3 linked regions of the Homo sapiens genome follow. The protein of the gene in region 1 purifies or fractionates together with the protein of each later gene. This does not show direct contact. Each region holds a gene or a part of one and is shown on either strand. Other genes may lie near its edges.

The links. Proteins that work in one complex are often made in the same cells at the same time.
Region 2: the proteins of ZFAND6 (region 1) and TXLNG fractionate together in Homo sapiens (co-fractionation; one large-scale study listed by BioGRID). This does not show direct contact.
Region 3: the proteins of ZFAND6 (region 1) and CDV3 fractionate together in Homo sapiens (co-fractionation; one large-scale study listed by BioGRID). This does not show direct contact.

The regions. Positions count from the first base shown.
Region 1 is NC_000015.10:80,065,636-80,070,825, forward strand, and holds part of ZFAND6 (AN1-type zinc finger protein 6), read left to right. Parts: intron 1-5,190. UniProt on the Homo sapiens protein: Involved in regulation of TNF-alpha induced NF-kappa-B activation and apoptosis. Involved in modulation of 'Lys-48'-linked polyubiquitination status of TRAF2 and decreases association of TRAF2 with RIPK1.
Region 2 is NC_000023.11:16,826,975-16,832,164, forward strand, and holds part of TXLNG (gamma-taxilin), read left to right. Parts: intron 1-1,119; coding exon 1,120-1,290; intron 1,291-1,342; exon of another isoform or gene 1,343-1,991; coding exon of another isoform or gene 1,992-2,045; intron 2,046-2,601; coding exon 2,602-2,796; intron 2,797-5,190. UniProt on the Homo sapiens protein: May be involved in intracellular vesicle traffic. Inhibits ATF4-mediated transcription, possibly by dimerizing with ATF4 to form inactive dimers that cannot bind DNA. May be involved in regulating bone mass density through an ATF4-dependent pathway.
Region 3 is NC_000003.12:133,579,195-133,584,384, forward strand, and holds part of CDV3 (protein CDV3 homolog), read left to right. Parts: intron 1-4,807; coding exon 4,808-4,956; intron 4,957-5,190.

The sequences.
Region 1 (5,190 bases):
CCAGGTTCAAGTGATTCTCATGCCTCAGCCTTCTGAGTAGTTGGGATTACAGGGGTGTGCCACCACACCTGGCTAATTTTTGTGTTTTTAGTAGAGATAGGGTTTCATCGTGTTGGCCAAGCTGGTCTCGAACCCCTGACCTCAGGTGATCTACCCACCTCGGCCTCCCAAAGTGCTGGGATTACAGGCGTGACCCACTGTGCCTGGCCAGTTTTGAATTTTTTAACTTAAAAAAATTGCAACTTTTATAATATTTTATGTTTTATAATGAAAAAATGTAATCCTATTGAATGTTCCTCTGAGCATAGCTTTAGCTATATTACTTAAATTTTGATGAGTAATATTTTTATGTTTATATATTTAAAAACCCCTGCAGTTGCAGTTTTTATTTTTTCAACAAGTATTTAAGCACCTGCTCCATCTAGACATTCTGCCAAGTGCTGAGGACACAACTATGTACAAGACAAGGTCTCTTGCCTTCATCCAGTTACAGTCTGTCAATATAGACAAACCAACGAATAAAGAATTTTCAGATTTCGACAAGTGTCTAGGAAGTAAATAAATAATAGAAGGTGCTAATTGGATGATCTGAGACTGTCTCTCTGAGGATGTCATGTTTAAGTTGATTGGTGGTACCAAGGTGTGTATGGGAGTTTCTTTAGCTTTCCCAATCTATCGAAACATAAAAAAAAAAAAAAACGGAGTCTCACTCTGTTGCCCAGGCTGGAGTGCAGTGGTGTGGTCTTGGCTCGCTGCAACCTCTGCCTCCTGGGTTCAAGCAATTCTCCTGCCTCAGCCTCCTGAGTAGCTGAGATTACAGGCATGCGCCACCATGCCCAGCTAATTTTTGTATTTTTAGTAGAGATGGGGTTTCACCACGGTGGCCAGGCTGGTCACAAATTCCTGACCTCAGGTGATCCACCCGCCTCAGCCTCCCAAAGTGCTGGGATTACAGGCGTGAGCCACCACGCCCAGCCGAAATGACTAAGTTTTTTTGGGAAAATATTTTGTGAAAATTGCTTTGCAGGCCTGGCTGAGATCACTTGATGTCAAGAGTTCAAGACCAGCCTGGCCAACGTGGCGAAACCTCATCTCTGTTGAAAATACCAAAATTAGCTGGGCGTGGTGGCCGGTAGCTGTAATCCCAGCTACTCGGGAGGCTGAGGCAGGAGAATCACTTGAAACTTAGAGGCGGAGGTTGCAGTGAGCCGAGACTGCACCACTACACTCTAGCCTGGGCGACACAGTGAGACTCCATCTCCCAAAAAAAAAAAAAAAAAATTGCAAACAGTTTGAAGCCTCTTCCCCATCTTCCAGCTGGATTGCTGCTCCAAAGCTTGTCCTGTGTAGAAAATTTGGAACTTTGATTCTGAGTTCTAAAATCAAGAAGTTGAAGGTAGTTTCCCATGTGAAGAGAACTGCTGGCACAAATGGTACATATGCAAAGTGCTTGACTTGACTTTGAATTTGACAGAAGATTAGAATGACTGGTGTTTACTGAGGGAGGACAGTGGGACAAGCTTTGTTTCAGGACTTGTTTGGGAGACTTTTATTTTTTATTTCCAAATGGTAGGGCTGCTTCCACCCCTCCTGCCTTCCTATGGAGTTTTGATTTTGTAATCCAAATCAGTCTCCTACAAATAGCATATATTATTTTACCTCTTGTTACTTTTCTTCATTATTTCTACTGTTTTCAGTTTTCTCTACTCAAGACCTTTGCATATGCTTTTGTTTTGCTTAGTTGTGATTTCCTTGAGGAATCCTTCCTTGATGCCACAAAATAGGTTAGGTCTTTCTCTTGGCTTCATGGGCTCATTTTATATTGGGCTTTTCTTTCATAAACATTTGTAACAACTCCAGTTCATTAAGTTTGTGTGAATTGTTTTAGCATCTATTTCTTCTTCCAGAACCATAGTCTGGTAGCTACCATCCACTTGTGGCTATTTAAATAAATTTAAATTTAATTTAATATTAAAAATTCAGTTCCTCATTTGTATTAGTCACATTCTAGGTGCTCACTCAGTGGCCTTATGTGGCTAGTGGCGATTGTGTTGGACAGCAGAGAGACAGTCTTCTGCAATAATAGATACTTATCTTAATTTATAGTCCTGTGGCTAATGGCTACCATATTTTATTTAAATAGTCACATCTGACTATTGAGATATGGCAAGTCTGAACTGATGTATTAAGTTTGAAATAGGAACTTGATTTCTAGTACCAAACAATGAAAATATCTCAATTTTTAAAATATTACATATTGAAGTAGTGATATTTTACATGTATTGTGTTAAAATATACTATTACTGTTAATTTTATTTCTTAATTAAAAAAATTTTTTTTTCTTGAGACGGAATCTTACTCTGTTGCCCAGGCTGGAGTGCAGTGGCACAATCTCGGCTCACTGCAACCTCTGCCTCCTGGGTTCAAGTGATTCTCCTGCCTCTGCTTCCCAAGTAGCTGGGACTACAGGCGAGCACCACCGCGCCTGGCCTGTTTTTTTTTTTTTTGTTTGTTTGTTTGTTTGTTTTTGAGACATGGTGTTGCCTTTGTCGCCCAGGATGGAGTGCAGTGATGTGATGTTGGCTCACTGTAGTCTCAACCTCCCTGGCTCAAGGGATCCTCCCACCTCAGCCTCCTAAGTAGCTGGGACTACAGGCGCGCCACCATGCCTGTATAATTTTTAAAAATTTTTAAAATTTTTTGTAGAGATGGGGTTTCACTGTGTTGCCCAGGCTGGTCTTGAACTTTTTTTTTGAGATGGAGTCTCGCTCTGTTGCCCAGGCTGGAGTACAGTGGCACGATCTCGGCTAACTGCAGCCTCCAGCCCCCGGGTTCAAGTGATTCTCCTGCCTCAGCCTCCGGAGTAGCTGGGATTACAGGCGAGTGCCACCACGCCTGGCTAATTTTTGTATTTTAAGTAGAGACTGGGTTTCGCCATATTGGCCAGGCTGGTCTCGAACACCTGACCTCAGGTGATCCGCCCACTGTGGCCTCCCAAAGTGCTGGGATTATAGGCGTGAGCTACCGCGCTCAGCCGGTCTTGAACTTTAGAGCTCAAGTAATCTGTCTGCCTTGGCCTCTGAAAGTCTTGGGATTACAGGCGTGAGCCACCGTGCCCAGCCAATTTTTAAATTTCAATGTGACTACTAGGAAATAGAAAACCACATGTGGCTCTCATTATGTTTCTGTGAGACAGCACTGGTCTGACTCGACCATAAGTTTGTACAGTGGTAGGGACTATATCCATTTTATTTACTGTGGTATCTTCAGCGCATAACAGACGTTCAAAAGATTTGGTGAATGAATAAACTAACTCTGTTAACTTTTGAATGTTATTGCATAGTTTACAGAGAATGTTACCTATTCAGCTTTTGCTTTTCAGAATTGTTTTCTTTGTGACTGATTAAAATGGTTGAGAAAAGCTCTTTCAGTAACTATATAAAGAATGAGTCTTCGTCTTTTATGTAATATTTTATTTATTTTTTTCTGGTTTAGGCCTCCAAGGAGAGAGAGAATTTAAAGTTGGCCAGTCTATTTTCTCTTAGTTTTTCTATGTCTAGCACTTTTTCTTAGATGATCTATGATATGTTGTTTGGCACATGAAAATTTATGACTTAAAATCTTAATAGTTGAGTATTATAAATGCCTTCTCTTTTATTTTTGTCTCACTATTGTGATCCCTGTTTCTTTTTATTTTGCATTAATCAGTGACCTTGTTTATCCCTTGAGACCTAAAACAAAGCAATGTACTGTTTTTTTGTAGAAAGATACCTTATCCTATCGGCTTGGTTTATGCTTGCTTATTTGTATGTTTCCTTAATGTTTCCTTTGTGTTCAGTGTTTGACCTCATATGCCATTCATTCAAACTCCCCAACTCCTCATACACACCTTGTAATCTTTTCCCTAAGGAGTCAGGAGAGATACACCAGGAATTGCAGGCTCAAATATATCTTACTTTTGCCAGGGAAATATTTTTTTTATTTTTTGTTATTTATTTATTTATTTATTTATTTAGAGACAGAGTCTTACTCTATAGCCCAGGCTGGAGTGCAATGTCTGCTGCCCGGGTTCAAGCAATCCTCCTGCCTCAGTCTCCCAAGTAGCTGGGATTACAGGCACCTGCCACTGCACGAGGCTAATTTTTGTAGTTCTAGTAGAGACGGGGTTTCACCATCTTGGCCAGGCTGGTCTTGAACTCCTGACCTTGTGATCCACCTGCCTCTGCCTCCGAAAGTGCTGGGATTTACAGGCGTGAGCCACCACACCTGGCCATATTTTTTTATTTTTTATTCCCCATTGAGGTGTTTTTCAGAGTTTATCCTTAGTGATCCCAGTTATGTTTTGCTAATGTCAGGGTGGTCTTTTTATCAACTACTACAATAAACCACCAGTCGTGCCAGAGAAAATGCCCAGGATTAATTTCTTTTGTAGGAAGAGCAGTTTGAACTATATGGAATCCTTCAAAATTCTAAGAAAGTGTTTGCCCTGTTCTGTATATATTCTGCCAAAAGTTGTTCCTAATAGTCTAGATATTGATTCTTTATGTAAGTAGGGTCTTTTTAATCAAAAGTGAAGTGGGACCAAATTGTTCAGTGGCTTGTTCTCTTCTAAATTGTTTTTAGCTGATAAGATTTGGGAAACTTTCTGGGCTTCCACAAATAATATACAATACATCTTTGAATACTTGATGCTTAAAAAGTGTTGTTACTGCATGCAATCAGGGAGCTCCAGAGCTTTTTGCAGGCTCCTTGTTCCTGAGAAGCAATATTGTTTTCATATTATCTCGGTTATACATTTTATGGTTGTGACATTGCTTTCTTTTTGTTTTTGCTGTTGTTTTCTGCTGCTGCTGATTTAGAAATGAAATAAGCTAACTCTTAATTTTAACCTGTTTGCTACCTAAAATGGTAATCATCTTGATGTTCTTTCAAGCAGGTCCCAGAGATCTTAAAATGATCCGGAATCACTGAGTCCACAGTTCTCTTTTCTCTTGGTTATGTATAGATGGAGAGTGGTCTTGGTGTTATATTAGTGTATGATTCGTATTTGTTTCATAATTAACTTCGAAGTGAAAAATTGATGCGAGAGCAAAGGTTTATTTGGTTTCCATAACTATTTACTAATTTTATGCTTGCCAGATTTTAAGATTAAACTGTTTGCCATCTCTTTTTTTTTTCTTCCCGTAAAAC
Region 2 (5,190 bases), on another chromosome or scaffold:
TCCCAGCACTTTGGGAGGCCAAGGCAGGTGGATCAATTGAGGTCATGAGTTTGAGACCAGTCTGGCCAACATAGGGAAACCCTGTCTCTACTAAAAATACAAAAATTAGCTGGGCGTGGTGGCAGGTGCCTGTAGTCCTAGCTACTCGGGAGGCTGAGGCAGGAGAATCGCTTGAACCCGGGAGGTGGAGGCTGCAGTGAGCCGAGATTGTGCAACAGAATAATAGTCCATCTAAAAAAATGATAATGAAAATAAAAAAATCAAAACCCCAAAGCACAATAAATTGATTGTTAAAATATTTGGATTTCAGCGGGTTTTTTGCCAGGTAGGAAATGATCTAGACAGACATTCACCCAGCAAACAGCAATTCGGGACATGCCTGGCTTTAGCACTGAGTCACTCCTGGCCTTCAACATTGGAGTAGGTTTCAGCTAGAACTGGAGCTGGTTTATTTTCCAAAGGGTTAAGGCTGGAATACTTGGGCAGTGTTCCCAGTGGGCCCAGGAAAATTCAGGGGCAGGAGGTATCCAGTTGAAGGGCATCATCCTTCAAAAAGCACAAGATCATAGCTGGAAGTTGAGGAGCCCATGTTGCTTGTGAGTTGTTGGGTTGAAAGCAGGGAGAAGATCTGTGATCAGTGTCTGAAGTCAGAAAGCTGGCAAAATTCAGGACCCCAGGGGATAGCAGGCCAATACGGAAGTCAAGAAAGCCAGAGATTCAGGCTGCTGGGTTCAAATCCCACCTCACCCCTTACTGATTATCTGTACTAATTAAAGAATGTTAGGCAACTTATTAATGTCTCCAGGCTTATACATTTCTTCTATAAAACCTGGATAATAAAGGGTTGTGAAAATTAAATCTGTCTAAAGGATTTTTTTTTAAAAAAGAAAAAGATGGATTATTTTCTGCTGCCCTAAATTTGCTTACTTTTTTGTCACAACTGGAAGAGGAGAGAAGAGAAGGGTGGCAGTGTAGCATGGCATGAAACAATTTAAATAATATATTAAACCATAGTATTTGACTTTTTGAAAATGTGTTCCATAGCTCTCATTATAATTCTAGCCATAACTGTAAGATTTTTACTGTACTTCCTAAATACAAAGTGCTTATGAATTTTAGCTGGAGGAGAGCAGGAGTGTTCAGAAGCAAATGAAGATCCTGCAGAAGAAGCAAGCCCAGATTGTGAAAGAGAAAGTTCACTTGCAGAGTGAACATAGCAAGGCTATCTTGGCAAGAAGCAAGCTAGAATCTCTTTGCAGAGAACTTCAGCGTCACAATAAGACGTTAAAGGTTAGTTGCTTCATTTGTCTGTTTTTTTCAGGAGGGACTTATCTGATTTCATAATCAACCCTGTGCCTATCTGAAATAAATCCTTGTCTCTACTTGGAGACAGATACTGCCTTGCTTTTTATTTTGCTTGGCCTGATGCCTTGTGTGAGGTCATTGTAAATGTAAGACCAATTCTTTCTACGTAAGTTTTGGTTTCCTGTTCAAGGAAGAGCACCTTAGTTGCCTCATACTTGGCTCCCGGGAATCTACGCTCAAGGCCCTCCTGCTTAGAGCCATGGCTTAGGAAGCTCAGAATTGCCAGTTTTCTGCTGAGCACTGATACAGCTGATCACCAAGTAGGAAAAGCTGCAGTGAAATGAGAAACTAGTAACAGACAGTCTGGGAAGGGAGAACTGCTGAGCTCCTGGGTGGAGCATTGCCCAGTTCCACTGGCCCACCCCCAGCCATTCAGTTGCTAAGTACTTTTAGGAAACCACTTATACCTTGGCTGATTGTAAAGGAAGAGGGAATAGGTATCCAAAGATTCATTGATATCAACAGGGGAAGAAGGAAAGGAGCAGAGCCGTGGGAAGGAATCTGCCTCTTAGAATGGGACAGACTCCCTTTATGCCCTTTATGCCCCAATAAACTCCCTTTATGCCCCAACAAACTCCCAAGGCCCTAGACTATAAGTGCACTCTTGAAATGGATCTTCACCTGGTATGGGAGCCATTATTACCTTCTTTGCTTTTGAGCCCTTGGATTTAGATGTCAAAGTAAGTGGTATTTTTTTTTTCCCATAGGAAATCAATATTTTGAGTAGGCTGGTAACAGTTCAGACATGTAAAGGTCTTTTGACACTCATATCCTAGCAAGAATTGAAAGTAAGCTTTGAATTTTTTGTTTTTTCTTTTTAATCATCAGAAAGTAGTTACAGAAAGGAAGCTTTTTGAGATGAGGATTCCATTTGTCCTTTGCCCTTTAGGGAGTAAGTGTGACCCAGAAAGTAAGCTGCAAGGGGGCAGGATCTCTTCCGACCCATCTAAGATGATGGCCTGTGTAACCGGCGAGTATTGCAGTAGAGTGAATTGTAGACAGCCATAACATTTATTTTGTAGCAGGACAGTTTGCATCTCTCTGGTTATCTGTCTACTTAGGAAAAACTGCTTGCTTTTCAGTGATAGCCTTCTGGTCATAAATAAGGGGGAGGAATTGTAGTTCAGAAGCAACACGTCAGGGCAGCAACAAATGAACCCACATTGCAGCAGCTTCTCTTGTGAGCATCTTCTCTATAGGTCTGTATTATTAACAAAAATTATTTTGGGTAATAAGGAGGAAAATATGCAGCAGGCACGAGAGGAAGAAGAACGACGTAAAGAAGCAACTGCACATTTCCAGATTACCTTAAATGAAATTCAAGCCCAGCTGGAGCAGCATGACATCCACAACGCCAAACTCCGACAGGAAAACATTGAGCTGGGGGAGAAGCTAAAGAAGCTCATCGAACAGTACGCACTGAGGGAAGAGGTAATGGCATTTGGTTTATTTAAACGGCTTCTCAAGATTAGCAAAAGTGTCACCATTCATACCTAAAGTAAAACTGCTGTCACGGGTGTTTCAGAACTTTGCATATGCATAGTGGCAGTCGGTTATTTATTAGGAAACGATCAGGCACCACAAATGAGATCATCACTTGATGTCCCAGGAGTCACTGGGTTTGGGACTTATTTGAGGTTATTTCTAGGAGACCCGTTTAAGTACTGCTTGTCTTCCATGAAATACTGGAAGATTGCAATTTTCGCATGTAGATTGTTTTCCCTTATCCAGACTAATAGTGAATAAATATTTGGGCCCCAAATACCCTGTATCTCAGACATCTATGATAATCTCTACAGTATCCACTACCATTGCATTATACTTGTACAGTTAATGTTTCAGATTTTTTTTTTTTAAATGAGGGCTTTATATTATTTGGGAGGAAAAACCTACTTCTAACCCCTTCTAACCCCTCACACATAAGCCCATTGAGGGTAAAAAGTTTACTGGGAAGATCCATGGCTAATGAACTTGGCCATTGGCCTTCAATGAAGACTTTTGGAATTATTTTATAAGCTAATCTGGAAGTTCAGAGGTAGTGTCCTCTGAACAAAGCGAGGAACTTGAAAAACCAGGTTAGTACCTATTTGCTAGAAGGTACTAACCTGGTTTTTCAAGTTCCTCACTTTTAGAGGGCCGATGGACAGGGTTAGAGGCTTTAGGTTTTTTTAAATGGTGCATCTCTGCCTTTTAACATTTAGTAAAATGTTGGGCTTGTTATGTTATGTTCCTTACAGAAATGGATTCAAAAAGCTGATTCAAATTAAAAAAAAAAAAAGATCAGGCATCTGTGTGTTACTTTATCTTGTTTTCAACTCAAACTTTATAGTTTTACATACAGCCCTTCAAAAACTGCTATTTTTTTTTTAAAGATTTTATTTTTCTTACTGCCTTTTGTTTTTTTTAAAAAAAAATTATGGAAAATTTCAAGCTTAACAAAAAGTAGAGAGATAATATAGCACCTGGCTTCAGCAGATGAAACCGTAATTCCGTGTGTGTGTGTGTGTGTGTGTGTGTGTGTGTGTGTGTGTGTGTGTGTGTGTGTGTATAGAGACAGTTTCTTGCTAAATTGCCCAGGCTGGTCTTGAACTCCTGGGCTCAGGTGATCCCCCTGTCTTGGCTCCCCAAAGTGCTGGGATTGTAGATGTGAGCCACTGTACATGGCTGATAATTTCATCTCTGTTCCCCTAGATTATTTTGAAGCAAATCCAAGATGTCAAATATTCCATTGATATTTGAATGTATAGCTCAAAAAAGTAAGGATTTAAGTATAACCATAATACCAGTTTCATACCTAAAAAATTAACAAATAGGCCAGGTGCAATGGCTCACGCCTGTAATCCCAGCACTTTGGGAGGCCAAGGCAGGAGGATTGCTTGAGCCCAGGAGTTCGAGACCAGCCTGGTAATATGGCGAAAGCCTGTCTCTACAAAAAATACAAAGACTAGCCGGGTGAGGTGGTACTCACCTGTAGTCCCAGCTGCTCGGAAGAGTGAGGCAGGAGGATCACCACCACTGTACTCATGGCTGGGTGATGGGAGTGAGACTGTCTCAAATAAATAACAATTACTGAATATTAAGTATCTAGTCACTATTCAAATTTTTTGGATCAGCTTCTTTTTAAAAGAGAAATTGTTTGAAACAAGATCCAAAGAAAGTCCATTTCACTGGTTTATATAACGCCAGTCTCTAAAATATAGGTTCCCCCCCTTTATTCTTACACTGTATTTATTGAAGAAACGTCTTTTTTGTCATAGAGGTTAAATTTTCTTTTTATTAGATTATAAAGCCTTTAATTGTCTTAAAATGATTCTTTTAGTTTTGTTGTTTGTTTTGACAGTCTATGTACCTCATAACTGATGTAGCAGATTTGAAAATCAGATTTGTTTAAATCATATTGTATGTGTCTTATGTTATGTTCTTTGGTCAGAATATAATGATCAAATTACTTGCAGGCGCTCTCTTGAGAGCAGTCTGTGGTGCTCTCAATACATAGTTAGACCACCTTACTTCACCAACCAGCATTTTCCCCTCTCATGTAGGGTATTGTAACTGGAAGAGTTCCGTTTCTCCAGCTGGGAAGGGATTGTTCTGTTGACTTTATTATACATCAGTAACCACTTAACAGTTTTGTTTGGAAATACTAATGAACTTTTACCAAATGTCTAAAGTGTGCCAGGCACCAAGCACCTTACCTAGTGCCACCATCGCATTTACTGTTACAGCTCTGCAAGGTAGGTGGAGGTATCCCCCTGTACAGAGGAGGGCACTGCGCTCCAGCGTGGAGAGGAATTAGCCCAGGGCCACACACTGGCCAGGATTTGA
Region 3 (5,190 bases), on another chromosome or scaffold:
TTCAGTAAGTCTCCCTTTTGTAGCATCATTATTCTCCTCACCTTACCAGTAGTGCCTTACAGACTTACACATATTTAAGACCGTATATGTGGAATTGTGATGAATTTACAGCAGTATTGTAGTGTTTGTTTATAAAATTTAGCTGATGGGAAGCTATATATTATATTTGGGTCAAACACTGAATTTCAGCCTGTCTCCCATGGAAATAACCGTTTGGAACGTGTTTCTTGTTCTGCTATGACATTTGGAGAGTTGATACTTTCTGAAATATGTAAAGATGAAAAAGTAATAAAATATGTAAATCATTTCTACCCTGCTAACTGGCATTTAGGCAAGCCTCTAAGCATCTCTGGGCTTCAATTCCTTCAATTGTTGGATGAAGAGTGTTTTTGGTTTGTTCGTTCTTTTTTTTTTTTGATAGAGTTTTTGCTTTTGTTACCCAGGCTGGGGTGCAATGGCGCAATCTCCGCTCACTGCAACCTCCACCTCCCAAGTTCAAGCGATTCTCCTGCCTCAGCCTCCCAAGTAGCTGGGATTAGAGGCATGTGCCACCACGCCTAGCTAATTTTTGTATTTTTAGTAGAGACAGTGTTTGACCATGTTGGTCAGGGTGGTCTCGAACTCCTGACCTCCAGTGATCTGCCCGCCTCTGCCTCCCAAGATGCTGGGATTACAGGCATGAGCCACTGCGCCCGGCTGATAAAGAGTCTTGACTAGACAATTTCCACATGTTTAGTTTAGCTAGTATTTCAGAATCTTAACCCAAAATACTTATTTATTTTTATTATTATTATACTTTAAGTTCTAGGGTACATGTACACAACGTGCAGGTTTGTTACATAGGTATATATGTGCCATGGTGGTTTGCTGCACCCATCAACTTGTCATTTACATTAGGTATTTCTCCTAACGCTATCCCTCCCCCAGTCCCCCACCCCCCAACAGGCCCTGGTGTGTGATGTTCCCCTCCCTGTGTCCATTTGTTCTCATTGTTCAACTCCCACTTGTGAGTGAGAACATGCAGTGTTTGGTTTTCTGTCCTTGTGATATTTTGCTGAGAATGATGGTTTCCAGCTTTATCCATGTCCCTGCAAAGGACATGAGCTCATCCATTTTTATGGCTGCATAGTATTCCTTGGGGTATATGTGCAACGTTTTCTTTATCCAGTCTATTATTAATGTACATTTGGAAAAACCCAAAATATTTATTTAAAAAAATTTCTTTTGGCCGGGCACAGTGGCTCACGCCTGTAATCTCAGTACTCTGGGAGGCTGAGGCAGGTGGATTACTTGAGGTCAGGAGTTCGAGACCAGCCTGGCCAACATGGTGAAACCCCGTCTCTACTAAATACAAAAAATTAGCTGGGCATGATGGCGCATGCCTGTAATCCCAGTTACTTGGTGGGCTGAGATAGAAGAATTGCTTGAACCCGGGAGGCAGAGGTTGCAGTGAGCCAAGATCAGGCCATTGCACTCCAGTCTGGGCAACAGGAGTGAAACTCCATCTCAAAAAAAAAAAATAGAGACAGAGTCTCACTGTGTTGCTATATTGCTCAAGCTGGTTTTGAACTCCTGGCCTCAAGTGATCCTCCCACCTTGGCCTTCCAAAGTGCTGGGATTAGGGCATGAGCCACTGCACCTGGCCAAGAATCCAAAATACTAAATTGTCTCCTTGTGCCTTTTATTATTGATGTACAATCCCTCTAATTAAACAGATTATGCTTATTTTTTGGTAATAGTTTGTAAACTAGGTGTATTTTAAATTTGAGATTATTTTATTTTTTAATTTTTTTCCTAAGGGCAAGGAGATGTTAGACACTAGACAGTAAAAAAAAAACTTCCAGTTGAGATACTGTCACTATTCCATCAGACCAAATAGGAGTTTTTATTTAAAAGCTTTCTGTGAGGCTGGGCGTGGTGGCTCACTCCTGTAATCCCAGCACTTTGGGAGGCAGAGGTAGGAGGATCACTTGAGGCCAGGAGTTCAAGACCAGCCTGGGCAAGACCCTGTCTCTACAAAAAAATGTAAAAAAGTAAAATTAGCCAATTGTGGTGGTCTGCACCTTTAGTTCTAGCTTACTTGGGAGGCTGAGGTGGGAGTATCTCTTGAGCCCTGGAGTTGAAGATTGCAGTGAGCTAAGATTGGGCCTCTGTACTCCAGCCTGGGTGACAGAGCAAGACCCTGTCTCTAAAAATTAATTTTTAAAAATAAAAAATGATTTTTTATGTAGGTTATAAAAATAATATGCTTGTTTTTAGAAATTTTTTTGAGAAAAATGTAGAAGCATAAAGAAATATGTAAGAATTATCTGTAGTCTCTTCTATTTAGGGATAATCAGTAAATAGTGCTGATTATTATGGGGTTGTCACCTCCATTTTACATAAGAGGAAATTGAGGTATAAAGAAATGAAGTGCCATGTTCAAAGTTTCCTGGCTGGTAAGTGGCAGAGCCTGGATTTGAACCAGGAAGCCTGACTTTAGAATCTGCTCCTAATTGCTTGCTGCATGAAGAAGATAAAGTCATACATTCTAGCACCCAGAGCTACTCTATAAAACTTTTTAAAATTGTTGTAGATGTTTTTGTATTTATATTAGGTATATAGATGTTGTTTTAGTGAATTTTGGTTTATATGACATGAATACTACCTCCATGTCAGCATAGGGTTTACATTTTAAATGGCTGCATAGAATTCTCTTACATGTTAACGAAAAGGAAAACTGAGAGATGGCTTGGCTATATTTTTATTTTAAATTGCATTTTTTTCTTTCTCAGACCTCTTAGGGATGAATTGCCATATTCTCTATCCTTTTTCCTCTCAGATAAAGTTGTAAGTAAAATCTTGCTGTAAATGTAGACGAGATAAATCTGTTCTTCTTTCCACTCTTCCTCATTGTCACTCTAGCCTCCAAATTCTGCAGTCACTTCTGGTTGGTAGGTAATTCATACAATGCTGCCATTATTTTTTATTTTTTATTTTTGACACGGAGTCTCGCTCTGTCACCCAGGCTGGAGTGCAGTGGCACAGTCTTGGCCCACTACAACCTCTGCCTCCCAGGTTCACCTGATTCTCCTGCCTCAGCCTCCCAAGTAGCTAACCGGCATGTGTCACCACACCTGGCTAATTTTTGTGTTTTTAGTGGAGATGGGGTTTTGCCATGTTGGCCAGGCTGGTCTCCAACTCCTGACCTCAGGTCATCGGCCTGCCTCAGCTCCCAAAGTGCTGGGATTACAGTTGTGAGCCACTGCGCCTGGCCAGTGCCATTATTTTTGAATGGCATTTTGCCACTTACTTTTTTCCTAAGTATCTTTAAAGGAGACTGTCAAGCTAGTCAAGAACTTTGTCTTATAGCCAGCATGTGTCTTGTTTTAATAGAAATGGAAGGAAAGCATCCTTAGATATCCTTTTGCAGAAGCCAAGAGAGGCTGTGATGTTCCTAAGGTTATACAGTTAAGAGAGTCAGGGTGATGAGTAGAAGGCAAGGGACAGAGTTTTGGGAACCAGCCTTTTTTTTATAGGAAGGTGGGGAAAAGGTAGAATGGTGAAGGAGTTGAGAAGCTTGAAGACCTAGGAAAAGCCACCATTGTCATGAAAAATAATTTTATGAAAATGTTGGTAGTTTCTGCCAGGTGTATCTTCGAGGTGAAGAGTTGCAAAAAGGACGTTCGATTTAGCCATTATTGTGCTTTAATATCCCTGTTGTCAGTATCCCTTTTGTCAAGAGACAAAAGATAAATACACTTGGTAATTTAGGACATGTAAAGTTACACAAAATAATAAAAAGTAATCCAGCAAAAAGAGAAATAATCAAAGATGCCTTGGAGAAATAGATTATGACTCAAGTCAATTCAAGAATAAATTAATTAGCATTGAGAAAATACTGCAAGCAGTCTTAAGATGGTATGTTACCACTGAGGGTATCTTTTCCATTTATAACATCTGGAAAGCCAAAGACTGAGATCTTATATATTTTTTTTAAACAGGTGATAAATACATGTCTGGTGTTAGGGGCTAATTCTATCCTCTGTAAACACTGGACACAGACTTGTTTTCATCTGCTGGAATGTGAATTCTAATTCTGAGAGTATTTTATGTGCGAAAGGATTGGCAAATAAAATTATACAACTTTCAAAACTCTTCATTTGCTCACTAAAAATATGCTTACCTTAAATGCCTGTTTGTACACTTTGGTGCAAGGAAAATTTTGTAATTGTGCTCTTAATCCTTCAGCTCACCTTCTTCTCTGCATTTCAGGTTGTATCATCCTCTCTTCCCTCCCTTAGTCGCTTGAGGTGGTAACTGGGGTCTTGCTCTTATGTGGGGCTGCTATAAATGATCAGGCATATTGTCACAGAGGCACATCAGGTTTTTTTTATTTTTATTTTTTTGAGACAGTCACGCTCTGTCGCCCAGGAGGGAGTGCAGTGGCACGATCTCAGCTCACTGCAGCCTCTGCCTTCCGGGTTCAAGGGATTCTCCTGCCTCAGCTTCCCCAGTAGCTGGCATTGTAGGTGTGTGCCCCCATGCCTGGCTCATTTTTGTATTTTTAGTACAGATGGGTTTCGCCATGTTGCCCAGCCTGGTCTTGAACACCTGACCTCAGGTGGTGCACCCATCTTGGCCTCCCAAAGTCCTGGGATTACAGGTGTGAGCCACTGTACCTGGCCTCACTTTTTAAATAAGACGTTCAGTCTCGAAAGAGATTGACTTCTTCAGGGTCGTACAGATAATCATGGATAAAACTAACGATTTGGACTGAAAATTTTCTTGGTGATTCCTTAATGAATTTACATCTTTGCTTTTCCAGCAGTGAAAAGGAAGAAGACGATAATGAAAAGAGACAAGATCCAGGTGATAACTGGGAAGAAGGTGGAGGTGGTGGTGGAGGTATGGAAAAATCTTCAGGTCCCTGGAATAAAACAGCTCCAGTACAAGCACCTCCTGCTCCAGTAATTGGTAATTTTACTATTTCAGTTTCAGAAAGATGTCTAATTTATATATGATTTTATATATGGTCCACTTTCAACTAAGTGCATGATTGTGGTAGGGTGAGGAGGAGAGGCTCCTTTCCATTCCTGGTAGAGTGGGATGTGTATATATCTTGTTAAAGACTTTAAAATCCTAAATAAAAGGAATCTGGAAGTTAAAAGACATGCTTTTGTCCTGTATGTTGCTGTAAAATTTATATAG